Homo sapiens: one gene and its partners. Changing the gene in region 5 together with the main gene of any one other region gives a genetic interaction. Each region holds a gene or a part of one and is shown on either strand. Other genes may lie near its edges. The genes, in order: SAP30, RUVBL1, RTF1, CHD4, INTS9, MED23 and ACTL6A.

The links.
Region 1: changes in INTS9 (region 5) and SAP30 together harm fitness more than expected from each alone (negative genetic interaction), as found in Homo sapiens cells (one large-scale study listed by BioGRID).
Region 2: changes in INTS9 (region 5) and RUVBL1 together harm fitness less than expected from each alone (positive genetic interaction), as found in Homo sapiens cells (one large-scale study listed by BioGRID).
Region 3: changes in INTS9 (region 5) and RTF1 together harm fitness less than expected from each alone (positive genetic interaction), as found in Homo sapiens cells (one large-scale study listed by BioGRID).
Region 4: changes in INTS9 (region 5) and CHD4 together harm fitness less than expected from each alone (positive genetic interaction), as found in Homo sapiens cells (one large-scale study listed by BioGRID).
Region 6: changes in INTS9 (region 5) and MED23 together harm fitness more than expected from each alone (negative genetic interaction), as found in Homo sapiens cells (one large-scale study listed by BioGRID).
Region 7: changes in INTS9 (region 5) and ACTL6A together harm fitness less than expected from each alone (positive genetic interaction), as found in Homo sapiens cells (one large-scale study listed by BioGRID).

The regions. Positions count from the first base shown.
Region 1 is NC_000004.12:173,373,354-173,378,032, reverse strand, and holds the end of SAP30 (histone deacetylase complex subunit SAP30), read right to left. Parts: intron 4,644-4,679; coding exon 4,518-4,643; intron 4,095-4,517; coding exon 3,996-4,094; intron 829-3,995; coding exon 706-828; 3' UTR 501-705; downstream 1-500. UniProt on the Homo sapiens protein: Involved in the functional recruitment of the Sin3-histone deacetylase complex (HDAC) to a specific subset of N-CoR corepressor complexes. Capable of transcription repression by N-CoR.
Region 2 is NC_000003.12:128,096,072-128,100,171, reverse strand, and holds part of RUVBL1 (ruvB-like 1), read left to right. Parts: intron 1-1,226; coding exon 1,227-1,290; intron 1,291-2,673; coding exon 2,674-2,872; intron 2,873-4,100. UniProt on the Homo sapiens protein: Possesses single-stranded DNA-stimulated ATPase and ATP-dependent DNA helicase (3' to 5') activity; hexamerization is thought to be critical for ATP hydrolysis and adjacent subunits in the ring-like structure contribute to the ATPase activity.
Region 3 is NC_000015.10:41,479,303-41,483,402, reverse strand, and holds part of RTF1 (RNA polymerase-associated protein RTF1 homolog), read right to left. Parts: intron 3,977-4,100; exon of another isoform or gene 3,912-3,976; intron 3,190-3,911; coding exon 3,078-3,189; intron 2,823-3,077; coding exon 2,716-2,822; 3' UTR 1-2,715. UniProt on the Homo sapiens protein: Component of the PAF1 complex (PAF1C) which has multiple functions during transcription by RNA polymerase II and is implicated in regulation of development and maintenance of embryonic stem cell pluripotency.
Region 4 is NC_000012.12:6,597,111-6,601,210, forward strand, and holds part of CHD4 (chromodomain-helicase-DNA-binding protein 4), read right to left. Parts: intron 3,944-4,100; coding exon 3,816-3,943; intron 3,560-3,815; coding exon 3,424-3,559; intron 3,286-3,423; coding exon 3,107-3,285; intron 2,903-3,106; coding exon 2,663-2,902; intron 1,316-2,662; coding exon 1,112-1,315; intron 990-1,111; coding exon 784-989; intron 1-783. UniProt on the Homo sapiens protein: ATP-dependent chromatin-remodeling factor that binds and distorts nucleosomal DNA. Acts as a component of the histone deacetylase NuRD complex which participates in the remodeling of chromatin.
Region 5 is NC_000008.11:28,774,647-28,778,746, forward strand, and holds part of INTS9 (integrator complex subunit 9), read right to left. Parts: intron 3,308-4,100; coding exon 3,183-3,307; intron 1,281-3,182; coding exon 1,113-1,280; intron 1-1,112. UniProt on the Homo sapiens protein: Component of the integrator complex, a multiprotein complex that terminates RNA polymerase II (Pol II) transcription in the promoter-proximal region of genes.
Region 6 is NC_000006.12:131,590,101-131,594,200, forward strand, and holds part of MED23 (mediator of RNA polymerase II transcription subunit 23), read right to left. Parts: coding exon 3,999-4,100; intron 3,072-3,998; coding exon 2,906-3,071; intron 2,361-2,905; coding exon 2,288-2,360; intron 1,428-2,287; coding exon 1,213-1,427; intron 343-1,212; coding exon 222-342; intron 1-221. UniProt on the Homo sapiens protein: Required for transcriptional activation subsequent to the assembly of the pre-initiation complex. Component of the Mediator complex, a coactivator involved in the regulated transcription of nearly all RNA polymerase II-dependent genes.
Region 7 is NC_000003.12:179,572,411-179,576,510, reverse strand, and holds part of ACTL6A (actin-like protein 6A), read right to left. Parts: intron 3,143-4,100; coding exon 3,042-3,142; intron 2,142-3,041; coding exon 2,044-2,141; intron 295-2,043; coding exon 200-294; intron 1-199.

The DNA of each region.
Region 1 (4,679 bases), on a different chromosome or scaffold from region 5:
CTATATTCATGCCACATAAATATCTTTTCTCGAAGACAAAATTTTGAAAAACAGCTATTTAATTTTATACTCTTATTTCAACTTTCAGCATTGTGTTTATCTTTGCTGGCACATTAAGTCTTCTTTGGAAGGAGGTGGGTATATAAATTAAACCATTTGTTCTTCCTAGTACTTCATCAAGTAATAATAACAAAAAAAAGGAAATAAAAAAGAAGTTGCATTCCAAGAGAAGTTTATTTTTCAAATTTGCTAGCCCTATAAAGCACTTTAAAAAATAATGCTATTTAGATTATCTTCACTTCCAAGTCAGATTGTCCCAGAGAATGCAAATGTGCTACATTTGTTACTTCTCCTTACCCTGTTAATTTCTTGGAAGTTTAAAAAAAAAAAAAAAAAAGGATTACAAAATGAAGGACTTTACATTAAAATCTCAATACTGATCTCTTAGTCAGTTTAAAAGAAAAATCAAGTTTCACAAAATAAATACACTGAAGCAACTATAATAGTAATAACCTTTATTTAAAATAGATTTAATTTAGGAAAGCTCATTTTATATGAGTTTCCAACTAATTATTAGAGTCAGAAACAAAGAAAATAAAATCAGAGAAAATCCTCTGTAGAAAAAATACACAAAGAACATTTCTACATGTGAAAAAACAGTAAACAGTGTTAACATCCAAGTTATTAGTCTCAATTCCACGTCTCCTAGTGAACACCACTATCAACCTTGAGATCTGATTTGTTCTTGTCATTCTTCACTGAGTAGATGAAATATGTTAAGGTGTCTTTTTCATTCACTGGAATAGACCTAAAGTGGCAACCAACTATCTACAAAGAAAAGAAAAATTAAGGAAATTAAATTTTAGATATAACAGGTTTCATAAACTACGTAAAAAATACGGTTTCATCAAAAGAAAAAGTGCTATGTGATAAGGGCTATTTCCTTTAAAAATTATATTTAACAAAATATCAACAAGACAGAAAGCATTCAAGAATAAAATGTTACGAACAAGAGATAGTGTGATTTCAAAGGACCCTTTGACCCACTCAATTTAATATACATTGATTAGAAAATATATTTTCCTTTTATTTATTTTAAATTTTATAATTGGGCCAGGCGTGGTGGCTCATGCCTGTAATCCCAGCACTTTGGGAGGCAGAGGTGGGTGGATCACTTGAGCCCAGGAGTTTGAGACCAGCCTGAGCAACATGACGAAACCCCATCTCTACCAAAAAAAATACAAAAATTAGATAGGCCTGGTGGTGTACACCTGTAATCCTAGCTACTCAGAAGGCTTAGACAGGAGGATTGCTTGAACCCAGAAGGTGGAGGTTGCAGTGAGCTGAGATCATGCCACTGGACTTCAGCCTGGGCAACAGAGCAAGACTCTGTCTCAAAAAAAGATAAATAAATAAAATAAAAATAATAAATTTTATAATTAGAATCTAGAATAGGGAATAAATGATTTTACTTTTAAACTTTAAATGAGATAAAACAGACGTAAGAGATCACATGCATCATTAAACCTGCAATGGTTTAGACTCTACTGATAGAAAAAGAAGTATGAAGTTGAAAACTTTTGCTAGTAGAGAAACCAACAATAACATATAAATTGTTTGCTGCAAATTATATTCATTCATTCACACCTTGGTAGCATTCTTTGGTTAAGGTTCCTTGAAAATTTTTCTGAATAAAAATTATGAATGGAAATGAGAGGAGAAAGAGGGATGTTCAATGAAGGATGTTTACCTGCTTCCTTGCTTTTTCATTGTGCTAACATAACATGCATACTACAATTACTAATAGAAGAATAATAGACTTACCTGGGGTGCTGACATGCATATTTAGATTCCAGAAAATAAAATTTCTTAAGAAAAAAGTTCATCCACACAATAATTAAGAGACTTAAGACTTAGTCATACAACCCTGGATTCCCTTAAAACAGTGGTCCCCAACCTTTTTGGCACCAGAGATAGATTTCACGGAAGGCAATTTTTGCACAGATTGAGGGTGGCGGAGTTGGTTTTGGTATGAAATTGTTCCACCTCAGATCATCAGGCATTAGATTCTTATAACAAGCATACAATCTAGATCCCTCACATGTGCACTTCACAAGAGGGTTTGGACTCCTCTGAGAATCTAATTCTGTGGCTGATCTGACAGGAGGCGGAGCTCAGGCAGTAATGCTTGCTAGCTGGTGCTCACCTCCTGCTCTGCGGACCCGTTCCTAACAGGCCACCAACCAGTACCAGTCCATGGCCCTGGGGTTGGGGACCCCTCTCTTAAAATATATGTACTACATCTGCACATTCCTTAACTTGCTAATATCTGCATTTCTGATTAAGTAAAATATAACACTCATGGCTATCTCTTATGTATAAAAAAGAAAATAGCTCTGGAAATAATATAACTGTTCTTAGAAGGTCAGTTTATCAAAAATTACAGGTTTAATTTATACCTAAATATAACATTTAAAATAATCAGTTCTTTGGTTCTCATTTGTCCCAAAACAGGGGTGCCTTCACTCCATTAGTACCTATTGAAATATTTCATCATGGTGGGCAATAACTATATTTATGTTACATTAATGTATTGTACAACCCCAAAAGAACTTGATCTTTTAAATCAAAATTAAAGAAAAATTAATTAGATCTGTGTTGCCCAACCAAGGATAAAAAATTTTAGCTAAATAGTTAATATATTAGATTTTAACAATGTTAAAAAGCATTCTGCCAAATAAATGTAACTTCTATTCATATTTCATTTTATTCAATAGGCACATTTTAGAAAATGTTGGGTAACTACTAAATCCATGCAAAGAATATGAGAAAACTGATTTATATTTCTACACTTCTATTTTGTCTAGTAGGCCAAATTTTCTTTTTTTAGAGATGGAGTGTTGCTATGTTGCCCATGGTGACTCAAACTCCTAGGCTTAATCAATCCTCCTCAGTAGCTGCAAGTAAAAATTTTTATTTTAAATATGATTAAAATATATATATATAAATCTATAAACATCTTAATAAGATGCACAGATTTCTTGGTTCTATTATATCCTGAAAACATATGCATGCTCCGTTAACTTTTCACAACTCAGTGACTGACTAGAAGTCCTCTATCAAAGCAAACTACAAGTAAAAGCTTGGGTAAAAGAAAAGCTTTTGCCTCTTCTAGATGTGAAAAAAACATGGATGTCTCTAATAAAACAAACATCAACAAGGACAAATTTTGAAATAGTTAAGTCAGCAAATTATAAAAATACTGTTTAGGGTCTGATTTGTAGGCCTATTCCACCACTTTAAAATATAAATTCTAATAAGGACATTAAAGCTTGTTAATTAATTTTATTATGCCTCAATTAGGTGCTCAAATGTTTACTGGTTAAACGGAGTTTTAAAATTAATAGATTTCTAAAGTGAGGATTAAAAAAACTCTCATTCAACATTTTGAGGGCCAGGCACGGTGGCTCACACTGGTAATCCCAGCACTCTGGTAGGCTGAGGTGGGCAGATCACTTGAAGTCAGGAGTTTGAAACAAGTCTGGCCAACATGGTGAAACCCTATCTCTACTAAAAATATTATACAAAAATTAGCCTGGTGTGGTGGTGCACACCTGAAGTCCCAGGTACTTGGGAGGCTGAGGCTGGAGAATTGCTTGAACCTGGTAGGTAGAGGTTTCAATGAGCCAAGATCATGCCACTGCACTCCAGCCTGGGTGACAGAGTGAGATTCTGTCTCAAAAAACAATCAACACATTTTGAAAGCCAGTATCAGAAGGTGCTGTACACAATCTACTAAGCAGTCATTACAAAAAGGAATTTCCTAAGTGGCAGACAAACATTTCTACACAACTAGATTCTTCCACAACAGATTTTTTAACTTTGTTCTTTCTAATTAAAATGTACTGTTACATACACTACATTAAAACTTCCATTAGCACTTAATAACCTCTCGGTTGTGCAGATAGTTCAAATAGTTTAAAACTCATATATACCTCAACAAGTTGTGCTTTATTAAGTCCTGGTCTGGTTGGTAGCTTGAAGTGTCTTTTGTATCTCCTAAGTGTATTTACTTGTAATTGGTATAAATCAACCTAGAAAAAATTAACATGTATAAATGAGTTCATACAATTTGTTGAAAATTTATCATTGATATGTATAATAACAAACATTTTAACTTCAGCACAATAAAATTTACTTCCAAAATCAAAAAAAATTTAAAAAATTTATATAATCCAACATAAATTATTAAAGAATTTAATCTTTTGGGGATAAATAATATAAACTGAGGTCAAAAAAAGAGTAAGTTATGTGACAACAGAGCTGCAAAAATTGTCAATCTAAAATGTAACAATTCAAACTGTGTAAATGCATGTCAACTGGCTATATTTAATTTTGCTTTCATTTTCAGATTTCTCAAATGTTTTAAACACTTAAAAGATTGTTCATATCTTTTTATAAAGGCTTCAGAATGCACTACTTAGGATTTACATTAAGCATAAAAAACTTCCATCTACCTCTGGGGTATCAATATCTTGAACAGGTGAATCACCTCCATCATCATCACTCCCTTTTCTCTTTCTTCTGTTTCGAACACTCTGAATTAAGTTTTTATGATAATCACATATGTAAAGATGCCTTGCCTGAAACAGAAAAGTTTTACACACTGCTTATGATTA
Region 2 (4,100 bases), on a different chromosome or scaffold from region 5:
ACTGTTGTCTGCTTCTCATACAGATGGATACTTATGCCTTGGCTAGTAAAGTGCAGGAAAGGATGTTATCACTATATGACATTTCTAGGAAATAGTGAATAGTCACTATTAGGGAATAGTTTGTTTTCTGACTTGAAATTTGATCCGTGGGTGTTTTGTTCCTTGGAGCTTTGGTCAAGAGATTACTGAAGACTCATCTTGGACCAACAGGTCCCCTTGGTTGGTGAAATGGCCATCCCCAAACTGACCTCCTGGGAGCCCTTGACCTGAGAAGAGTGCTGGGCTGGGAGTCAGAAGTCAGGAACTGTGTTGCTCCATCACTGACCAGCTTGGTTAATTTGTCACTTTGGGTCTCTGGGTTTTCTGTGGTTTGGGGTTCGGTTTTGAGTTCCCTCCTACTTGGCAAGGCAGTTTTGAGGACCAGACAGGAAACATTTGCTGCCTTTAGCTATTCAGCATTTAGTGAGCCCTTCTGTGTCTCAGGGCCTGGTAACCAACAGGTGATCACTAAATGCTGAATAAATGACCAAACACCAGCCTCTTCCTCTTGCTGACTGCACTGTTAGGAGCCCGCAGGAGGATGCAGGTGAGTGGTGAACCTGTTATGGAGTCAGCCATGATCAGCTCCAAGTTAAGTAAGGACTAGGCTGATGCAAGCCTGTGGTCAAATCTAGTGAGAGGAGGCACAGCAATATAATCATGGTATATTTATACTTGCTCTTTATACTTACTCTTATAGTCCATGTGTCCCCAAAGGCACAGGAACATTTGGAGGAAGTCCTGAGTCCGGTTAGGGTCAGATGCGCCCTAGAGGGCATTTGACGTGAACTTTAATGACTGGGAACTTCTAGGAAGGAGAATGGCATTCCTGGCAGATGGAATAGACTCAAAAGCATTGAGTCATAAAAAAGCTTGGGGGTGTCCAGGGCAGGGCTGGTAGTCTTGTGTGGCTAATCAAGGAACAAGGGGTTGGAAAAAGATAGGGCTGGAAAAGGAGGCTGGGCAGGCCCCACGGAGCTTATACTTGCCATGAAAGGATTTTGTTTGATTCTTACAGGTTAGGGGAACCTCTAAAAATTCCTCTGTGTTTAGAAGCTCCTCAGGCTTTGAGGAGGGGTCTCCATACCTCAGGATCCCATGTTGAGTTGATGAGTGGGATGCAGGGGGATGAGGCTTCTGTAGTCACCTTAGAAAGCAGCACTGACTCTAAGTCTTCTCTTATGCAGGGGGGACAAGATATCCTGTCCATGATGGGCCAGCTAATGAAGCCAAAGAAGACAGAAATCACAGGTAGGAGAACCAGTGTGCCCTGTGAGCAAGGGGCAGGGCGGAGGGCCCCACATTCTGAGATGCTCTTGCGGCTCTGTGAGCACAGTCGCCCTGAGGAAATGCCTCAGAACAGTTCTTTCTTCCTCATAGCTTAGAGCTTGACTCTAGCCTAAGTTTCTGGCGGCATTTAGGCAGCCATATAGCACACTGTGTGCTATCTGCCCCACTGCAGTCACAGTTTCTGGCCCCTATGAGGCCCCAGAAATAGGGATTTGTGTCGCCCAGCTCTGCTGGAGCACAGGCTCTGGAGCCTTGGGGCTGTCAGCCCCCTCCCTAGTAGAGCACAGGGCAGCTCCACAGACCAGCTCCACATACTGCCCTGCCCAGTTTGTGGGCACTTCCCAGAGCTCCACAGGGGACACTGCTGCTGCTCCCCTGTGAACCTTTATTTAACCTGCTGCTCTTCCCAGCTTTCCTGTTGCTGTTTTTTTTCTAATTCCACCTACAGTTTCGTCACCTTAAGATGTTAGTTAAACATTAAAGCAAATATTGTCTTTAAAGTTTAAGCCAGGGCAGCAATCTGAGACCTTTCTGTTCGAGTTGTCAGAAGCAGTTTCTTTCTTTTCACACGGTTTTCGGTGTGCATCCTCTTTGGACAATCCCCGCCTCTTGCCTTTGGTGGAAGACGCTGCCTCAGATCTTCCAGTTTTCTATTTGTGAGCTGCTCCCTCCTGATGATAACACAGGAGCTGGTTTGGAAAATGAGCACTGAGACCTTAGCTGGGTTATGTAACTTTTGAGAGACTCATCCCTCTAGGAGCTCTGAGATTGGGCCTTTCTTCAGAGCCTTTCATTCCTCAAAGGTTTCTGCTCAGGATTCTAAAAGCACCCACTTCCTTAGTCCAGGCACTTGATTGAAAGTTAATTAACCTAAGCATTGTTGTATGGGACCAAAAGAAAGGGTCATTTACTGAGTATAGAACAGGTAAATTTGCATGTGAAAACTCATTTCACCCAGGGCTCCCAAACTCCAATGTCTCCCAGATCAGACAGAGCTAGATTGGGTATGTGGGAAGTGATAAGGCATGGTAGGGAGTGTGACAGCAGTGAGCGTGTGCTGTGAAGGGATTCCCATGCAGAACACCTGTGCAACCTTTTTACATTTAACCAAACTCATCTTTTGGGGGAGGCTGCCAATTTTGTGACCTTTTAGGTGTGATTATCACTGTGTTCAGATGACGACACTGAAACCTGGAGTGGGGACACACCCTGTCTGGGATCACATAGCTAGTAGGAAAACTAGGCTCCTAGCATGGGTTTGGATTGAATTCAGGTGGAGGAGAAAAGGCGATAGTCTCCCCCAGCCCTGTGCTGACCTTGCCTGCCCATCCTTGCATCTCCTAGACAAACTTCGAGGGGAGATTAATAAGGTGGTGAACAAGTACATCGACCAGGGCATTGCTGAGCTGGTCCCGGGTGTGCTGTTTGTTGATGAGGTCCACATGCTGGACATTGAGTGCTTCACCTACCTGCACCGCGCCCTGGAGTCTTCTATCGCTCCCATCGTCATCTTTGCATCCAACCGAGGCAACTGTGTCATCAGGTAGGATGGCTGCCTGCCAGCCACAAGGCTTTTTTAACTTCCATCTGGGCTCATTTGTTCCTCAGGATCTCTCCAAACCCCATGAGGTGGGACAGGGATGAGGGGAGGTCATGTTGTTTTTGAGGGAAAATGTGCCAAGTGGCTTGCCTCTGGCCTCATTTCCCTAGTCACCAAAGGCAGCAGCTGTCCTGTCACTCATGAGGAGGGTCTCCCACGTGATCTTTTGGGTGTGATACTACAATTTGGTCGTTCAATTGGAGTGTACAAAGGTGAGATCAGACAGGGCTAGCCTTTGATGACATTATACACATGAACGTCTTCAGTCTTCATCTGCGCTCTGAGAGGTAGGCATTATTGGCGTCATTTTTCAAATAAGGAAACTGGAATCATAACTTGTCCCTCATCGTAAAGACAGGATAAGAACCCAGCTCCTTCTGATAACAAAACCAGCATTTTCTTTCTTTTTTTTTTTGGGGACAGAGTCTCACTGTGTCGCCCAGGCTGGAGTGCAGTGGCGCGATCTCGGCTCACTGCAAGCTCCACCTCCCGGGTTCACACCATTCTCCTGCCTCAGCCTCCCGAGTAGCTGGGACTACAGTTGCCCACCACCACGCCTGGCTAATTTTTTTGTATTTTTAGTAGAGACAGGGTTTCACCGTGTTAGCCAAGATGGTCTTGATCTCCTGACCTCGTGATCTGCCCGCCTCAGCCTCCCAAAGTGCTGGGATTACAGGCATGAACCACCACGCCCGGCCCCAGCATTTTCTTTCTATCCCAGACCTCTGAACCACACTGGTGTCTTTCCATCCTCCCGCTCCACTCTTTCCCATCCCTTTGGCCTGCCTTTGGGAAGGGCAGATGTTGACCCCTGGAAGACAAGTGTTCATACGGTGCTCATCCTGCCAAGATTGGCCCAAAGCTGGGCCAGGAACTTTCCTGCGGTTGCTTTTTCTCCTAAGCACTCTCCACGCTCGTGGTCCTGGAGAACACCCCATCTTCCCATCTCTCAAGCCCAGTGTCAGTATTCCCAGTACCTGGTAGTTTTATTGCTCTTTTGGTTTTCTGTGATCTTGTTTAAACATTAGTGCCTGGTCTCTGCAGTGCTGGGGGCACAAAGGTGGGTGATGAGGGGCCTGTTTTCAAGCCTGCAATAGAGTAGTGTGGGGACAAAGTCCCTGAGGCTGCATGCTCAGGGCAGTGGAGGCAGTGGGAGTTAGAAAGACACCCT
Region 3 (4,100 bases), on a different chromosome or scaffold from region 5:
CATTATGAACTAGGCAGATGGACACTGGCCTTTTTGCTTCTTGGAAGGAACTGAAAAAATGCATAAAAACAACCTTGGGTGCTGCACCCTTCAACACTGAAACCACACTGTGGAGGGAGGAGGGGCCCAATGAGGGAATTCCCCAGCACAAGAAATAGTGTGAACCACCAAGAAATCCTAGTTGGTAGGACAAAGCCAGTGTCTTAATGCCTGACCAAGATCTTGGTTCAGAGGCACTGCCTCAGCTGAGATTGGAGACAAGTCCTTAGTCTTGGTCCCAATCACTACAGAGGCTACTCGGGTGGAAAGATACCCTTCGGTCTTCTTTGGTTGGCTTTTCTCCCTGCTGTGTGCATTGGCATCTCGTGGGGGTTTCAGCGGCTACATGTGGGGAGGTGGTGGCAAAGTGGCTACAGTGTGATGCAGTTTTAATAAAAATTTTATTACACAGCCATAATGTAATCAACACTTCTCCAAATCCAAATGATACTAAATACAGATCTACATGGTGGATCAGAATGACTCCAGCGAATTATCTGGATTCTATAATTTTATGTTTTTTAAAACCAGAAATCAAAAAAAAAAGTCCAAGTTCATCATGATAGGAGAGGTCCCAGCAGCTCCAGGACTCTGCTGAAGTCCAGGCAATGTTAACAGTCTGTGATTCCACATTTACACAATAGTCTATAAAGAGTTTCGGTCAATGGACTATTCAAGTATATATGATTTTAACGAGTCCATCACCACTCCTTTGCCCAAGTGAACTGTGTCACAGCTACCACAAAGCTGTGTTACAGTCATATTTAGCAATTTTACAATCATAATACTCCTTTAAAACCATCCATTGCTGCTTTAAAAATAAAAAAAAAGTAAACTAAGTTAAAGCGACACTGAGGCTCTACTAAACCCAGAAGTTACCAAGTTCATTTTTATGTTTAAATACAACTTACAAGTCCATGATTTCCCATCGTCCCCCTTCCTTGTACGAAAGCAGGGTGAGGAAGTACAAAGCAGAGCTTTTAGATTAGTCTCTCGTGGAGATCGGAGCTCTCAGCTGTTCCTTTAGCTTAGCTCTTGGTATATATAGTCAGCTGTACTTTGTTCTGAAAGATTTGTTAAATGCCACTTTTATTTACACTTGGAGCTTTACACCTGAGAGTGATTATCAAGCAGTCAGTTTATCTCTTTTCAAACATTTCATAAAGACATACACACACCTCTGCTGGCTTCGCCCTAGCTGCACAATATATATGCTGACCATATATATGTATACACACACACAAAACTGCACATGCTTGAAACATTTGCAACCTAAATCTTTTTGAGGCGGAGTCTCACTCTGTCACCCAGACTGGAGTGCAGTGGCACGATCTTGGCTCACCACAACCTCCGCCTCCCAGGTTCAAGGGATTCTCCTGTCTCAGCCCCCCGAGTAGCTGGGATTACAGGCACGCACCACCATGCCCGGCTAAGTTTTGTAGTTTTAGTAGAGATGGGGTTTCACCGTGTTAGTCAGATTGGTCTTGAACTCCTGACCTCAGGTGATCCACCCGCCTAGGCCTCCCAAAGTGCTGGGATTACAGGCGTGAGCTACTGCACCCGGCGTAACCTAAATCTTTTTGTGTTTGCTCTCCACATTCATATTCAGAAATTTCTCTTAAAAACAAAATGTAGTTCTTGCCAAAGCAGCAAAACAGAATCACCAGGAAGAGGCTGGTATACTGGGTGAGAAAAAGAAGTTCTACGTTCAGCCAAGAAGCTGTGGGCTGTACCCATGGGAAGAGCAAGACATTCACTGCCCTCCCTGGTACCTGGCCATGGGCTTCCCTCCCACACCTGCCAGGACACAGCCTGCAGGTCAGGGGGCTAAACTGGGGAGTTTTCTCCAAAGTTGGGAAAGGATGGGAAGAGTAGGTGGGAATGGGGAAGTTACACAGCTACAGCAGTCAGGCCTGTTTAGTAAGAAGAATCACATTTAATGAGTTTCTTTCTTGCAGTTTCAGATGCTCAAGTACAGCTGAAAAAAATCTGAAACAGCTATAGACCCATGACAGACTGATACAAAGAGTACTGCATTTTAAAAAAATGATAAAAAAATCCACACACTTACACACACACACATACACACTCTCGCTCTCAAATTAGACCCCCCCCCCCCACAAATGTACACTTTTTGGAAACTAAACTGGTTTTGAAACCCCTTCTTCCAAAAAGAAGGGCAGAAGAGAAAGATGAAGAGAGGAAAGAGGATCGCAGGTGCCCAATCCCCGCTCCCCCCACAAGGTCACGTGCCGAATGTTCAATGGGTGGGCCAAGGCAGTCTGTAGAGGAGACCGCCTGGTGCTGCTGCTATTGCCCCAGGGGCTCCAGCAAGATTCCCAGCTCCATGGTAATACTGAATGCGTGCAGAGTGGCCAATGAACTGCGCGGTTAAAAAAACAAAAGGCAAACACAAATCTAAAGACATGGATAAAGCCCAAGAGAGCCCAGGCCCACACTGGGTGGGGCCCTGGGGGAGGGGAGGCTGGTGGGAGATGGTGTGCAGACAAAGGAGGTCTATACAGCAAATGGTTTATATTACAGATGACTGGCAGTTTAGAGTCTCTTCCCAGTTCAACAGCTGCTCCAGCCCAAAGAGGCTAAATCAAAGGAAAGGAGGAAAGGTGGGACGCTGCGATGGGGCATGCAGGGTCAGAAGCAGCAGGCTGGGTGTGCTCAAATAAGCCCTCGTCGTTTTTTGTAGTCTTCCAAGTTCAGAGATCTCCTTGGAGCCCCATCCTTGGCTGGCGGAGCCTTGGAGGTGATGGCTAAAGCCTTTGACTCTGTGGGAAAGAAGAGCAAGTTGGCAGCTGAGGTCCCACAAAGTCCTCTTAGTCCTGTGCTACACTCCTGCAGGCAGCCTCCTGACTGTGGCCCTGTTCCCTCTCACCATACCCACAGCCTGTCTTGGCCTGGCCTGTGGATGCTGATGAGCCAGCATTCCCCTTTCTTCCCTAAAAGTGGGCTTCCTTGTTGCCCCAGAAAACCATGGATCCATCTGGTTCTCAGCCCTCACCACCCGCCCCACCCTCACATACCTGAGCTGGGAACTTGTAAGTCAATCTTCACATCAAAATCGTGTACTTTGAACAGATCTTCTGAGAGGTCACTGGCTGACTTAGAATTCAAATCTTTATCTTTGCCTTGACCCTGGAATGTGAAGAGGAAAGCTAATGGTAAGAGCATAAATGCAAGTGGATTTCAAGCAGCAGCAGCCACTAACGGTACGAAGCTCTTATTTGAGTTCATTAGATTTTCCTACTAAGGCCCCTTTCTGATTCCTTCTCTCAGAGGGAGGCCACAGACAAAGAGCTTTCTCTCCTGAAGGCTACAAGCACAGAGAAGAGGGCAGGCTTGTGTCTGTGGTATGAGTGTAGAAAGGGTGGGCTTAAGCAACGGGTCACTTCCTGACCTAAGATTTCAGAAATCCTGAGACCAGTTAGACTACAACAGGAAAAGACTTAACTTGGACAGAAAACTGCTTTTTTTTTTTTTTTTTGAGGTGGGAGTCTCACTCTTGTCACCTAGGCTGGAGTACAACGGTGCAATCTTGGCTCACTGCAACCTCCCCCTCCCAGGTTCACGCGATTTTCCTGCCTCAGCCTCCTCAGTAGCTGGAGTTATCGGAACCCGCCACCATGCCCAGCTATTTTTTTTCTATTTTTAGTAGAGACGGGGTTCTACCATGTTGGCCAGGCTGGTCTCGAACTCCTGACCTCAGGTGATCCGCCCACCTCCGCCTCCCAAAGTGCTGGGATTACAGGCATGAGCCACTGCGCCCAGCAAGAAAACTGCTTTTAAATGTGCCATTTTCAACAAGCTTTCACTTTTACAATGTCTGATCTTTGTATGTTATCTCTCCTCCTGTGAAGCTGGCAGGGTATACAGTAGTACCCTCATTTTACACAGCAGAAAAGGGGATGCTGAGGGCTGGAAGCCAGCTGCTGAAGGACATAGTCAAGGCCCTAGGCAAGTAGTGGTGTCAGGTTTGGAATTAAGGTTGTCTGTTGATTATATCTGTAAATAACTGGGATGGAGAAGGGACTCCAAGAGGGACTCCC
Region 4 (4,100 bases), on a different chromosome or scaffold from region 5:
TACAAAAAAAAAAAAATTAGCCAGGCATGGTGGCGATGGCCTGTAGTCCCAGCTACTCGGGAGGCTGAGGCAGGAAAATGGCGTGAACCCAGGAGGCAGAGCTTGCAGTGAGCCAAGATCACGCCACTGCACTCCAGCCTGGGTGACAAGTCTGTCTCAAAAAAAAACAATAATAATAAAATAAATAAATAAAGATAATAACATGAAGTGTCAGGCGCAGTAGCTCACGCCTGTAATCCTAACACTTTGGGAAGCTGAAGCAGACAGATTGCTTGAGCCCAGGAGTTTGGGACAGCTATGAGCAGTGATCACGACACTGCACTCAAGCCTGGGCAACACAGCTAAAATTTGTCTCAAAATAAATATATAAGGCTGAGCGTGGTGGCTCACGCCTGTTAATCCTAGCACTTAGGGAGGCCAAGGCAGGCAGATCACCTGAGGTCAGGAGTTCAAGACCAGCCTGGCCAGCAGAATGAAAACCCTGTCTCTACTAAAAATACAAAAAATTAGCTGGGCATGGTGGCTTGCGCCTGTAGTCCCAGCTTCTCAGGAGGCTGAGGCAGGATAATCACTTGAATCTGGGAGGCAGAGGTTGCAGTGAGCCGAGATCACGCCACTGCACTCCAGCCTGGGCACAGAGTGAGACTCTGTCTCAAAAACAAAAAACAAACAAAAAAAACCAGTGTCTTCCAAGTCTAAGTTACTGGTGACAGCCATTTTCCCAATCTCTTTAGCAGGACTCTCCCACGGAGACTGCCCGTCTCCCGTGTGCTCAGCTGGTACCTGTGGTTGAGGATTCGGTGGATCATCATCCACTCGGGTTTTATCCCATAGCGATAGAAGCGTTCCTCCATCTCTGCAAATTTAGGGTCCTTGTTCTTTCGCTTTCGGCTTTTCTCTTCATCACCACCAAAGTCCCCAGAAGGTGGCTCATCCATATCATTCTTCCGCTGATAGTTTCGGAACATCACCTGACAGTGCAGCTCCAGCTTTGAGCGGAAAGAGAAAATCAGCCACCAAGAAGCTGTGTTCATTCCTTCTATCCACAAGGCTCTTTTGTCACTATCCTCTTCATCGTAGCCCCTACATCTCCAGACTATCCTAAACTTACCTGCAGTTCAGAAACCCAGGAGCAGTGCCAGTAAGACATGCCTTGCCATTTCACAAAGAACTGCCGCTCTGGCCGCCCCTCCAAGGGCTTTGGGGAGGGCGTGTTGGGATCAGCATCTGGAGGCCGAGGCACTGGTGTGGGAGATGGTGGCTGACCCCACTTCCAGATTAGGATCTTCTGCACTTTGCCCTTCAGAGCTGGACACTGAGAGAAAAAGAGACAACTTAATCTCAAATCATAACCATGGGAGGAGAAGGGACAGCCCACAGTCTCAACTTCATCAAAGGACGATTCAGATCTCATTTCAGACCTGGAGCAGTGGCTCATGCCTGAAATCCCAGCACCTTGGGAGGCCGAGGCGGGCAGATCACGAGGTCAAGAGATCGAGACCATCCTAGCTAACATGGTGAAACCCCGTCTCTACTAAAAATACAAAAATTAGCTGGGCGTGGTGGCATGCGCCTGTAGTCCCAGCTACTTGGGAGTCTGAGGCAGGAGAATCACTTGAACCTGGGAGGCAGAGCTTGCAGTGAGCCAAGATTGCCCCACTGCACTCCAGCCTGGGGGACAGAGCAAGACTCCATCTCAAAAAAATAAAAAAAGATCTCATTTCAAATAAAATCTAATCCCAGGACTCCTCCAGGGAGAAAATACAGGTTGAGGACCCCTCATGTGAAATGCTTGGGACCAGAAGTATTTTGGATTTCACATTTTTGGATTAGGGTGCTCAACCTGTAATAGAATTCCCTCTCCATTTCTGGACATCGTCCAGGATTTGCGTGCCACCATCACTCCTATCTGCTTAACAGAGCCAGTAGTTAGACTTTAACAATAAGCCAGAACAATCAGGAAATCAACAGACTTAGAGCACAGAATTCCTCCCTTAAGCAATCTAAAGCAGTAAGTGGCCCTATTAAACATTCTAAACTGGCTGGCATGGTGGTAAACACCTGTAATGCCAGCACTTAATGAGGACAAGGGAGCAGAATGGTTTCAGACCAGGAATTCAAGACCAGCCTGGGCAACATAGTGAGACCCTGTCTCAACAGAGATTTTTTTTTTTTAATTAGCTGGATGTGGTGGCATGCACCAGTACTCCTAGCTACTCAGCAAGAGGTTGAGATAGGAGGATCACTTGAGCCCAAGAGTTGGAGGCTGCAATGAGCTATGACTGCACCACTGCACTCTAGCCCGGATGACAGAATGAGACCCTGTCTCCAAAAAAAAAAATTTTTTTAACAAAAAAATTGAAAACATTGTAAGCTACCAAGACCCTGAGGCAGGGTGTCAACACAGGGACAAATGTTCTCAGCTAGAAGAACATTGCTTCATCTCCTCTTAAGAGAGCTGGCAAAACATCAACTCCTCAGTTTGAAGTTAGTCCTATATTTTCCCAGGACAAAAGTATCCCAACACTATAGGATGAAGGAGAATACCTTTCTCAGGGCTGAAAAGCTCATAGTTCCTCTCCTGCACCCCAGCCTCACAATAGCCTACATAGAAAAGACTACACTTTCCCATTTTTTGCCCCGGCTGAGATCAGTCACTCACCGTACAACGGGGACAGAGCCATTCACCGTTGGGGATCTCTGGAAGTGGGGGATTCAGGCAGTGGATGTGGTAGGAAGAAGGACAGGTATCACAGCAGAGCAGTTCCCCACCATCCTTGCAGACCCGACAGAATTCCATATGGTGGTCATCCTCCTCTTCGAGGTCTCCCCCAACCTCTTCCAGGATCTCCTCACCCTCCGAATTGTCCTCTTTAGCTTCCCACTGGATGCCTTCCTTCTCCTGCAGTAAAGGACCACAGATTCAGATTATTACCCCCACCCGCCCACCGCAGTCTGAAGCCAGTGCCCATCATTCCTTTGAATGCTTCCCAAAGCTCACAACCCGCAGCACCAGCATTTCCATTTCCATCCAGGCCCCGAAGAGCTTTACTGTCCCACCCTTCTTCTCATGGGTTCCAAGGGGCCACAATGGCCAGACACTCACGCAGTGTGGGCAGCTCCACTTGCCCTCGGGAGCCTTCTCCATGTCGGGATCCAGGCAGACCATGTGGTAAGCACGGGGACAGGTATCACACAGGATGATCTCACCGCCTTGCTGGCACACCTCGCAATAGTCCTGGTGGTCTGTCTCATAACCATCCACAGCAGTCACCTCCTCCTCGCCTGGGCAAGGAAGAGGGAAAGCCCAGTTATTGGAAAAAAACTACCTCCCCCCACCCCCCGACCCCTATCTCCTTAGGGAGATTCTTCCCCAATCACTCCCACCTCATCCCATCACAAATATACAGAAGAGAAACACACCTTTCTTTTTCTTTTTAGTGGTTCGGAGTTTCTTGCGGCTGCGGCTACTACGGCTGGTGGAACCATCAGAAACAGAATAGCTATTGATACTGGCATCATCGAAGTCAGATTCCACATCTAAGTCATCATCCTCACTCTGGCAGGATGAAAAAGAATAAGGTTAGACGTTCAAGCCAAGGGGAAGGACAGAGTGGCAGAGAGGGGAGTACTCTCTCACTGGGGACACCAGAATCCCAGCAAGCACCGTTATACAGGGAGCCTAGTCTCATCTTGTTCTGTGGGAAACGCCCCACATTCTTACGTGCCTACTATGAAGGACAGGTTCTGATAGAAGGTCACATCCTTTCTATTAGACATGGCACCCTCCCTAAAGCGATGGGCTGGGCTCTCACCGAGGATCTCTTACGCTTGGAACCAAAACCTCCCAGCTTGATTTTCAGGGGAGCTACTTTCTTGGGTTTAGGCTTCTTGGCATCAGGTACACGAGGGCTGCCCTTGGGCTTCCTCCGAGCATTGGGACCTAAAATCAGGATATATCCAAATATATACCACAAGACCAAAGATGGGGAAAATAAAATCTTCTCCACCTAAGCTTGCTTCCCCACATTCAGATTCCCAAATTTCCCTCCAAAATCCAAGACTCATTCCTCCCTCCTATCTCCTACCTTAGGGCTGAC
Region 5 (4,100 bases):
AAGACCTCCAACCCAAGGTCTGGAGGCCATTTCTGAACCTCAGACTCCAAAAGAAGTTTGGGCACACTGGTTTTAACAATAAGTTTTTATATTTCTTTTTCCTGTCTGTTGAAAACACATTCAAGTTGCCTCAAGAGGTGAAAGGAAGCCAGAGGTAGCCTCCAACCATCCTCAACGCTGTCTTTCAGGAGAGGCCGCGTCCCTCTCTGTCTCCCTCTCAGAGGAGTGGCCCAAGCGCAGCATGCCACAGCTGTTCAACATGGACAGCATGCTTTGGCTCTTTCCCTGCTAAAACTGAAGCTAAGAGTTCACAGACCTATAAAATACTTAGACTTTGATAGACCAAAACCTGCAAGTATGCTCAAGAGGATATAAATAACCAAGTTTACAATCCTTATTTTTTGGTTCCTGTTATCTCCCCCATCTACCTCTGAATTCAGCAAACTCTTGACACTCACTCATAACTGAGGTCCAGGAAGGAAGAGAAAAGTCACCATCCTATGGTATTTAGGGACAGAGCGGGTGTCAGCATCTCCACTTCCCAGGGCTCTGACCCATGATGTGGCCCAGGGCTCACGCTGCTGAATGCTAGGTAAGGAGCAGTCCTGACTAACAGCTGTTATTTTATTAGTTGAAAAACAAGAAGGCCCTGAAAATCCCCCCTCTTCCCGGTTACTTGGTTAAGGGTCCATGTTCTTTGTTCATTCATACTTGGAGTCTCACTCTGTTGCCCAGGCTGGAGTGCAGTGGTGTGATCTCGGCTCACTGCAACCTCCACCTCCTGGTTCAAGCGATTCTCAGGCTTCAGCCTCACGAGTAGCTGGGATTACAGATGCGTGCCACCACACCTGGCTACTTTTTTTGTATTTTTAGTAGAGATGGGGTTTTGCCATATTGGCTGGGCTGGGTTGGCCAGGCTGGTCTCGAACTCCTGACCTCAAGTGATCCGCCCACCTTGGCCGCCCAAAGTGCTGGGATTATAGGCGTGAGCTACTGCGCGCAGCCTGGTTCATTTATACTTGACATAAATCCAAAAGAAGGCCACCCCTGCACGATCTCCAAGAGCCTCTGTGGAAAGCTCTAGTTTAACCCTAGGAAGGAGAACAGCTCACCTCTGGCATGATCTCGATCTTCTCGTACCGACGTTTGAAGGGCAGGGCGAGAACCTCAGCCCGCCGATAGGACATGGCGGGGGGCTGGCAGTCGATCATGAGGTCCATCCTGTGGGACTGGGCTGGGGGCGGCTGAGTGTACTGCTCAGGACACACCACGTGCAGGGGCTGAGGAACCAATGGGACAGTTGAGAAAGGTGGTGTGAAGTACAGTGGCCCCTGTGGAAGGCCCATTCCTGACCCCGATCCACTCCCCGCCATTACAGGCTCACCACTTCCAGGCCAAGGTGAACTTTCATCCTCTCAAGCCCAATGAACCGTAGACAGGAGAGGGAACGTGAAGGCACTGGGGCAGAAGAAACATCTCGGAAACCCCTAAACTGCCTCAGCTTAATTTATCTTTCTTACTCTTTACATAAGTTTCACGGTAACTTCCATGTGTCTGCTCCCAGCGGTCTCTGGGCTTCCTCGGGGCACGGTCTTTCTCTAACATTCCCACATGCCTGCTATTATAAGCTCTTGGCTGATTACCAAGAGCTGTGGCTTTTCGTGCCGGGCTGGCGCTGTGGGTTTGGAGTTTCCGCTGGATCTGCAGGTCAGCTGGTATTAGGCAGTGGGCACTCCTCAGCTCATGTGCTCACCATGTGCAACCAAGGAGCAGAGGCAGAGTTTTTTTTTTTTGTTTTTTTTTTTAAACAAAATGTCTCTTTTTGTTATCTTGAGAAAAAAAGATTAGTAAACCAATTTTTACTTTGCACAAATATCACCCAAATGAAAAGGAATGCTGGCAGCCCACAGGGGCACTGTGTTGTCCCTGCTTCTACTTAAGAGCTTGGACCAAGCCCTGAATTCCCTGCTGAAGACGGCTTTCCACCAGGCTGACCGGGCTGAGCTTCCAAAAGCACTTGTTCCTTAGGGCTAATACTTTTCTCCTCCAAACTGCCCTTTGCTCCTCCTCTTGACCTGTCTCAAAGCATCTCATGCCACAGGTGCAGTCTGATGGCTTCTCCCAGGTTTTCCTCACCTAAAGTGGAGACCAGGTGGCCTCCAGTTTCCAGGATTAGCACCTGACAGAGGGGCGTCAAGAGCTGGTTTAGGGACTGGGATTTGAAGTTAATAATGAAAAGCAACACGCCTTTCACTGCTGCTTCTAACGTGGATGAGCATACATTGGGGTAGCGAATCACTGTAGACAGGCCCCACGTTTGCTGTCTGCTCTCATCATACCTAGAGAGTGCCAGTATTCTTTCTTCATTGGGCAAGCACATTAATAATCACCAGAATCCGCTCTTGGGGCCCTCCTGGGGTTCTCCGGCTTTCTCTGTTTCCTGTTCCCCTGCCTTAGAGTTTTGTGAAAGGGCCTCTCTCATCCTGAGGTTGAAGGTGCTGTGCTGGGCCCCTCCACCCTCATCTCACTCCTGGGAACACCAGGGAGTGGAAAGGGAGAGCTCTTCCTCGCCGGTGTCAGCTGTCCTCCTTGCCAATTCCAGTTCCTCTCCCGACTCTCAAGAGCCAGAAACCCAGCGAGCAGTGGCTGAGCCAGCACAGTGGTTCCGTGGCCCTGCCTTCCTGCTACGCGCGCCTCCTGGTCTACACTGCACCCCAGCTACTTCTTCCCTTTCTCCAGGGCAGAAAATGTGAAGTGAAACAAATGACCAAAAACTGCCACAAAACCCAAACCCGACAGCACTGTTTGTGGTACCAGCCTACACGTGCGACACGGCCCCAGTAACGCGTTTCATTTAAACTGTCTCAGCTTAGTGAGTATGTTTCTAGAATGACTTTTTTTTTTTTTGGCAGGGGTGAGAGGGTTTGCTTTTAAGCGGACACAGATGGTTTTCTTTCCCTTCCACATCTGATTTCTTTAGAATGGAAACTGCGGTCAGGGTGTAAAGACCACTCCTTTTCAGTGTGGAGGGGGGCTGGCATGTGTCCCAGCATTCTGCAGATGCGTGAGAACTGAAGACAAGAATCAAACACAGCTAGATCTCTCTCCCCTCACCCCACACAAGCATGAGCCACACCAAGGTGACATGACTACGTGAAGGCACAAGCAGTGTCCTTCATTACCTGCACTTCTTTAAGCAGCTTTGACACCTGGATGAAGTTCAGCCGGGTGTCGATGGGGCAGTAGATGCATTTCATGGCCAGCGGCTGGTAAGGAGCCAGGGCTTCCAGGTAGGAGAAGTCTGGTTCTAGGGAAAGTACAAGAAAGAAATCTTACAATGCAGACTACACAGGAGCTGCCAAGCCAGACAGCAACTGGGGCGCTGAGGGCCCACAGACAGTCAGGGGGTCAGGAGGGAGCCAGGAAGCACACGTGGGGGACGGAGGTCAAAGGGGCCCCGTGGAAGGAGGGGCAGGCTGGGATGGACCCTGTGGGTGGGCTCCAAGCTTCAGCAGAGGCAGATGAGGTAAATGAGGGAGAAATACATATGTGGGGGAGAAAAGAAAGCTCTTTTTACAACGAAATGCCAAGAAACAAACGATGAAATAAAAACCAAAACCACCGTTTGGCAACCATTACAGTTCATCACTTATTCAGATGAAAATCATCAACAAATGCTAAAAATATCAGATACCATTTTGAGGGAGAACAGAATATGTATATAGTTTCAAAGAGTCCCCCACAAGGTACTGATTTAATACAATGGGAAAAACTGACTTCACAGTGGAGAGGCCTGGTACAGACCCGGGAACCTAGAATCAGCTCTGAGTTAACGCCCAGGTGTGAGATGCACCCGGAAGACAAGCGCACGGCCCCGCCTCCAGGCCCGTGAATGGTCTGTAGACTGAGACTGGGATGCTCCCCAGCAGCCCCAGCCCCTCAGACCGGGAAGAGTCCTCGCCCTCTGCTCAGCCTGTCTCCTGAGGGCTGCTGCAGCCTGCTTGGCAGGGAACATTCCCCCAACTCGAGGGAGCTGCCTGCCTTGAGCCAAAAGACCTCGCTCGGTCCTAACTGATGTGACACTTTGATTCCCAGCACAG
Region 6 (4,100 bases), on a different chromosome or scaffold from region 5:
TCAACCTTCATGATGGGCGTTTCCTCTGCATCTCCAATTCAATACATCCCACCCTAAATTCATTACTGGCAAACTAAGTCCTCTAAAATTGCTCTTGGATCCTGTTAAACTAGTTTCACTACTAATGGTTGTGACCTGCAGTTTCAATAACACTGGTAAAGAAACTTAAATAGATACTTCAGAATTTAATCATGTCACAGGAAACCCAGATTATATTTTACCTCTATCATACAACGAGTTCTCTCTTGCTGAAATCTTTGTAAAAATGGTCCAACAAGATGGTATACATAAAGCAACTGGAATTCGGTCTTCACTATAGGAAGAAGTACTTCAGTAAGAAACCTAAAATTTGAAGATAAAAATCTCCTGTGACTTGAAATTATTTAAATTGTTTGAATTTTGTTCATACAGTATATACAAAGTATTACAATAAAATATAATTTTTTAAAGTTCCTTTTAATTTGGTAACAATAATATTTCTAATTAATCTCACATCTCTCACTGGCTATTACTTTCACTTGATTATTTTTATTTATTTATTTTTTTGAGACGGAGTCTCACACTGTTGCCTGGGCTGGAGTGCAGTGGCGTGATCTTGGCTCACTGCAACCTCCGCCTCCTGGGTTCAAGTGATTCTCCTGCTGACTAGCTGGGATTACAGGTGCACACCACCACGCCTGGCTAATTCTTTTATTTTTAGTAGAGACGGGGTTTCACCATGTTGGCCAGGATGGTCTCAATCTCCTGACCTTGTGATCCACCCATCTCGGCCTCCCAAATTGCTGGGATTACAGGCATGAGTCACCGCGCCCAGCCGCAAGTTGTTCTAATGAATGAAGTATATACCTCATCTGTTAATGAGATTAGAACAAAATGAAATACAATTTTTTTTTTTTTTTCAGATGGAGTCTCACTCTGTCACCAGGCTGGAGTGCAGTGGCGCGATCTTGGTTCACTGCAATTTCCAGCTCCCTGGTTCAAGTGATTCTCCTGCCTTAGCCTCCCGAGTAGCTGGGGTTACAGGCACACACCACATGCCCAGCTAATTTTTGTATTTTTAGTAGAGATGGGGTTTCACAATGTTGGCCAGGATGGTCTCAATCGCCTGACCTTGTGATCTGCCCACCTCGGCCTCCCAAAGTGCTGGGATTACAGGCATGAACCACCGCACCCAGCCTACGTCAAATTTCTTTAAGAAATTATTATACTTACTTTGGAATGAGAGAAAGTTGTCCGATGCTAGAATGGTGCCACACAGCATGTGCAAGAGCTAACGTATAGCTACAACTCATCTCAGAGTAGGACTGATGACAGGCAGTGAAATCAAAGAGGCGGAATGGATAGCCAACCCACTCTGTTTCAGACGTCAAGCTGGGGCTGCTGATGACACTCACAATTCGATCATGAAGAACAATCCAATATGGCTCCTTTAAAATCGGAGGAAAGCTAGTGAAAAATATCACTTATCCAGCATTCCACCCCAAAGTCTAAAGTAATAGTGTTTTCTCATTCTTTAAAGTTTTCTATTTTTCCAGCTTCTGCACAATACAGCTGGGTGGCTTTGTAACTGGTCAAATTAAGTCAGTAACAACCTGGGAGAAGTAACTGTGAGTTAAGGGGCTCCATACATGTATCTGTCCAGCTCATTTAGGTACCTGATATACACTATGCAGTAAATCAATTAATTTATCAAACAATAAATCTATAGCTTTATTACTTATTTAAAAATAATAAACTTTAAAAAAATATGTGTGGAGGTCAGAGAAAGGAGTCTTCATGTGAGCTGGAAAAGTCAGGGAAGGCTTCATTCACTGAGAAAGGAGGCTCTAAGCTAGCAAAGAATGAATAGGCTTTAGAGAAGGTGATGGAAAGAAGAAGCTTCTGGAATAAGAAAAATGTCTTATTCCCTCACATTCAGAAGTACCTAAAACATGTCTTAAGCACTATCTGAAGGAACAAAGGCTGTAGATATACAACACGTTAAGTGGCCAAGAGTAGATCAAGCTATTATGTAAAAACTAAAGTTGGATAGGTAAGGTGGTACCAGAAAATGCAGAGACCCGTAAGTCACATAGATATATTTAGATCTAATACAGAAAAGCAAAAACTAGTCACTGTAGATTTTTAAAGCAGTAATAATATGAAAAAACTTTAAAAACATAAAATACTTCATTAATTTGCATGACGTCCCGTACAAGGGCATCCTATATGCATCTTTTTCTTTTTGCTGACATGGAACAGCTGGCTGTATTTCATCACTAAGTACAAATCACAATTATTAACTCACTGGTAGGGCAGTGATGATCAAACCAATTGCATTCATCCATGCTGTAATGTTCTCTCTTGGCACTAAAGGCTGACTGCAACCGGCAAAAAAGAATGTAAGTATGAATTTATAAAAACATTTTAGATGGCTGACAACGGATCTTATTTTTAAAGAATATGTCTAATTCAGAGGATCGACAACTAATCCATTTCAATAAAACAATGGGGAATTTTTTATTGAATAAAAATGTAATATGCATAAAAACTCAAGAAGGCTTTTTAAAAATACTTCCTCCCCAATCATTATCCCATACTTCATGCTAATTTTTAAAAGAATCTTGAAATCTTGAAAACAAGATGAAGAGAATCTTGTTTTAAGTGACAAGTTAACATTATTCCTATATTAAATGTCAAACTGCTATTAATGAGTAGAAGTAGGAACAAACCCGGATCTTAGGATCCTGTCCAGGGCTCATTCCATAACTCCTATATCACAAAGACAAGATCTGGAACCAGAAAACAGTCATCATCCAATGTGCATCAGCCTTGCGGCAACAGGTTTGTCTTAAAAGTTTGAAATAGAATACCATTCTATTTACAAATAAACAACAAATCTTACTGCATGAACCAGAATACATACCTTTTTAGGACAACATTTAGAAGGGCATTCCCAACTTCTTTGCCTGAAACTGCCAAGGCCATGAGCTCCACACAAGTAACATGGAGAGCATGGGCAGCTGGGTTGGGAAACTCATTGAATCTCCAGTCACAGTTTGGAAAGGGACCAGGAGATTTGCCAGCCATCGGTGCACACAGTTAAAGCAATAACAATTGGACTATCTCATCTGATTGTCAATTTATCTGATTATGAGCTGCCAAGAAGTGATTTGTCTACGCTTAGAGAGATTAAGAGGCAAATGCAAACCAAATACAAATGAGTTTGACATGATTGAAATGTATTAAAAGCAACCATTTGATTAACCACAGGTATAAATGGTTGGTCTTTCAGGTGGGTTCTTATAAATATGACATATAATAGCCACAGATGCAACCAAGGTTTACCTAGGTTTCATGAGCCTATTTCTTTTAATAGTTATAAGACATTAATATGAAAATTATTTTCTAATGAGTCATTCTTTTGCTTCAGAAAATAAATTCCTTTGTGTAGGAAAATAAGTCATGCTCATTTATGTAGAATTTCTTACCTAGTAAAATAGTGGTATGGTTATAGACATTAAGTATAGAGTGCTAATAACTGAAAATATAAAATCAAAATGAAGAAATAAACATCCAAGTATATTTTCACTAAAATATACCTTTTCAATAAAGAAAAATATATTTTATCATTTATTATTTACTACAAACATTAATTTTTTTAAAGTAACAAGATCCTACGTTCTCCAGTAGCACACAGATGCATGTGCTACAAAATATAGTATGTAAGAATAAGATTTTTTCTTTGAAACAAATCTCCATAAAGTCTATTTTTAAATATAATTTTTTTACCGCTTATCCTCAAGTTCTAAAATAAAAATTTTAACAGAATTTCAGCCTAATTGGCATGATGCTGTTAATTTAAGATTTCAAATCTTTACAGAGATGAAAATGGAAGTGATCTTAAAAAAAATTAAAACCTTGAAATACATAAAAAATTACTTTAAAAGAAAAAATATATTCTCATAAATCAAAATACTGTTATTTCTGGGAGTCTAAAATCACAATAAAAAGGATATTATCGACTAGTCTGCCAATCAATCTGCAATAGTAGGTGTCATCTGGAACCCAAGGATTTTCCTCTCGTGCATTCATAGCGCATTTCAGGTAAGTGTCACTTA
Region 7 (4,100 bases), on a different chromosome or scaffold from region 5:
GAACTATCCTTCAACACATAAATAAAGCCATGCATCAGTTTTAAATATACATTATATACTAAAGATTTTTAACATACTTAAAAAAAATCTTATTCAGAAACTGATATGCTTTAATAGTGCTACTCATCATTTTATTTCATTATGTGCATCCTCATGGCATCTAAAATCATCTCAGTGTATCCTGGTTAAATACATTTACCTTGTTGAAGGACATAGCCATCGTGGACTGGAATTGCAGTGGTATGAGTGGCTCCACTGTCCAAAATCAGCCCAGTAGAACGACCATTAGCAAATCTAGTTTAAAACATTAAGGAAAAGAAAGTATCAAGGCCGCTAAAATAATGTTTATTGTAAAGGGCAGGCTCTTATAATGTTTCAGAAACTATTTCTTAAACATGTACCTTATAGTTAAAAATGTATTACAGTGAATCTAGGGATAAAAATTGGTATAAAATAATATTTCTGGCTTAAAAACAAATAGTAAGAGGCAGGAATTCCAGAATGGAGGTATCAGGCACTCAGGGAAACCTTTATCCTAGGAACAGCTACTATTAAGCTGGTCAAAATTAACACAATCACTAAAAGTCTCTGGAGACTGATCAAAGAGCTTACAACAAACTGAGATGCATTTATTTAACAAAATATACAGAAACTTGGTAAGAACAGTGGGAGGTTGTGATAATTGAGCTAGGGACTATAACCATTCTCACATAGCATTGAAAAAGAGCTGTTTCAGCAGTTTGGCAGCCATATGGCAGTTCCTATCTCCTCCAACTCAATGAGCGGGAAAACTATTCCAGGTGAATTCCACAGTTGGTAAATATTGGCAGATCCCATTTTCCACAGTTCTGTGCTGCAGATGGCCTATACTACCTGAATATACTAAACTGATGTTTAGGAGTAGGGACATTCACTCATTCATCAAATATTTACTGAGCATCTATTAGGTGTCTACTAAGTCTGGTGCTTAATAAGGAGGGAGGGAGGAAGGAGGGAGGCTGCTCACCTGGCACTAAAATTCCTTTAACACAGTAGACACACAATGGTGCACCAAAACTGCCTTTTCCCTGAAGGTTATCCTGTTTAGTGAAGTAGATGATGAATAAAGCTGTAAAAAGAAAAGCTCAGGATGTCCCAGGGAAGATGGTGATGTAAAAGGGAAACCTATTCCTGAGATATTCAATAGTAAAATCTGGGGAAGGGAATATGGGCAAGAGTAGGAGCATGTGGGAAGACCAAGAAGCAAGAGAACACAGCGAGGTCAGAGAACTGCAAGTACCTCAGCACGGTCTGAAAGTAAAATAAAGGAAGAAATGTAGAAGACGATTCTGGCTTAAAGCAGACTAGCACTTTAGAAAGATTATTAGAGGCTGGGCACGGTGGCTCATGCCTGTAATCCCAGCACTTTGGGAGACTGAGGCAAGCATATCGCTTGAGTCCAGGAGTTCGAGAGCAGCCTGGGCAACATGGCGAAACTCCATCTCTACCAAATAAATAAATAAATAAAAATAGAAAGATTATTAGAGCAACAGCGTAAAGAATGGGCAGACAAGAGGACGTGCTTCAGTAATCCTGGAAATAGCTTCCACCTAATGCTGTGGCAGTAGGACAGAGAGAAGCAAATAGCAGGGAAGAACAGGCAGGATTTGATGACTGACTAAATTTGAAGGAGAATGAATTTACAGCCAATTTCCAGTTTTCTATGATATTGGAAGGGAAGGAGATTTTAAAATGGCAATCTTTCAATTCACCTAAGCCAACTGGTTAAAACATTGCCTTCTATCCACATGCCCCTTCTTAAAAACAAAAACAAAAACGTCTTAACACTCAGAATTTGAGTGTTATTTTATTTCCCTCATACCTTCTGGTGTATCATCAGTTCTAACAAGAAATACTAAAAGATGAATAGCTAAAAAGCAAGAGAAAAGGGAAAAAAACAACTTCGGAACAAGCAATAATTGGCGTATGTCTTCTCCCAGAGTTATCATATTCATTAGTATCGTACATACTTCAAGAGGAAAGGTATTACTCTTTCAAGGATACGCTGTCAAAACTGCAGTTTTGCAAAGGAAGAAGGCAGGGATGTTGTAGTGTTCAAACATTAACTCTGTCAGTTTCTCTCTCTTTGCTCTAGTATTCCACTTGAGAAGAGGGGAAAAAGAAATGCAAGTTATTAAGAATTAAAAAGTTGATTTATCTCCAGATAAAATCTAGCACTATATTAACAAAGATATAAAACATTAAGAACAGAATAAAATACCATGGGAAATCATCTTTCATAATATCTCATAAAAATAAAAAAACCTCTATAATATTTATTTCTTTAGATGTAGATTAAATTTAATAAATCTATCAGAGAAGAATTAAAATTCTTTAATAATAAAATTGCTCCTGACTTTTCCACATATGAGGAAACCAGGATTCTTATAAACATATTATTAAATCTAAAGAGTAAATATGGTAATCCAAATCCTAAGTATGAATTTTAGACCACCAAATTCTCCCACTTATAGTTGGTATTCATAAAAGAATACTGTAAGTTAGTAACAATAAGATACTGATAATTTATGACCATTATGCTTGCTTTCTGGGACCTTTTTGTCTATGTACCAAATGTATTTCACAAGAGACTTTGGTCCAGAAATTTCCAGCCCTTGTTCAACATCTCAATTCTTTCTTGGAAACTTGAATAAAAGTAGATATACGCTGCCCTTGGGGCACAAGAAATGATTCATAATTCAAAATGGGAAGCAGTCCTAGGAAATAAAATGTTAAACAAATCCCTAGAAATACATAAATAACCACAAGAATCCATTAGGGTGTTTTGTTGTTCTCTGGATATTTTATTTATTGGAATAGTAAAATAAAAGTTATAATAGTGTTAAAAAATTAATCCTTTTCCCTAATTTTCAAATTCAAAATATGAATTTCTATGCCTCTTTAAAGAAAAATGTTCATCAAATGAGTAGAAAACTAAAGGAAAAAAAAAAGAAAAAAAAAAAACAACTAGAGAAACGTGAAAAAGAAAATCTTTATCTCACCGGTGCCTCTGACATGAGAACAGGATGGAGACTGGCTTCTGATTTGACATGCATTTTGTAGGTATGATCCAAAATAGCTTGGAAACTATCCCAGTCTTCAACTAGAATATAAGATTAGTAACTTGGAAATAATGCATAGTTGAAGATGAATATAGCATCTTTTGAGAAATTGTTTCTATGACTTAACAATTAATACTTTAGTATACAGAACCTACTGATTTTACAGATCAACTTCATACCACATTACTTTATATAGAGATTACCTTTGCCTTCTAGATATATAGAACTTCTTTTTGGTCCCTCCAGCCCCCAGACCTGTCCCAAATGTAATTAATCTAACAGACCTAAAATATGAAGTAAATGTTATTCAATTCAATAAATACTTATTAGAGGCCCAGAATGTGATCAGAATGATAATAGGAAGTACAGAAGAATTGTATGGCCTTCTGATGATACTACTGCTGGATTTATAAAAAAAAAAAAAAAAGAAAGAATTGTATGGTCTAGACCCGACACTCAAAAAAACTTACAATCTATTTGGAAAAAGACTAAAAGACATGTTAAAAATTCAAAGAAGAGCATCTGTCTTCAATTTGGCTTCCACCTAAACATTCCATTAAAACTACTGACATAAGTCACTAATGACCTTCTTTTTTCTTTTTTTTGAGATGGAGTCTCGTTCTGTCCCCCACACTGGAGTGCAATGGCACAATCTCAGCTCACTGCAACCTCCGCCTCCTGGGGTCAAGCAATTCTCCTCCCTCAGGCTCCCGAGTAGCTGGGATTACAGGTGCCCGCCACCGTACCCAACTAATTTTTGCATTTTTAGTAGAGACAGGGTTTCACCATGTTGGCCAGGCTGGTCTCGAACTCCTGACCTCAGGTGATCCACCCACCTCAGCCTCCAAAGTGCTGGGATTACAGGCGTGAGCCACCGCCCCCAGCCACTAATGACCTTCTACTAGGCAAATTCATGGATACTTAACATTTTTAATCTCATCTGACTTCTCTAAATTATGACAGTATTGCCTACACAAGAGTTTACAAACTTTTCTGTCA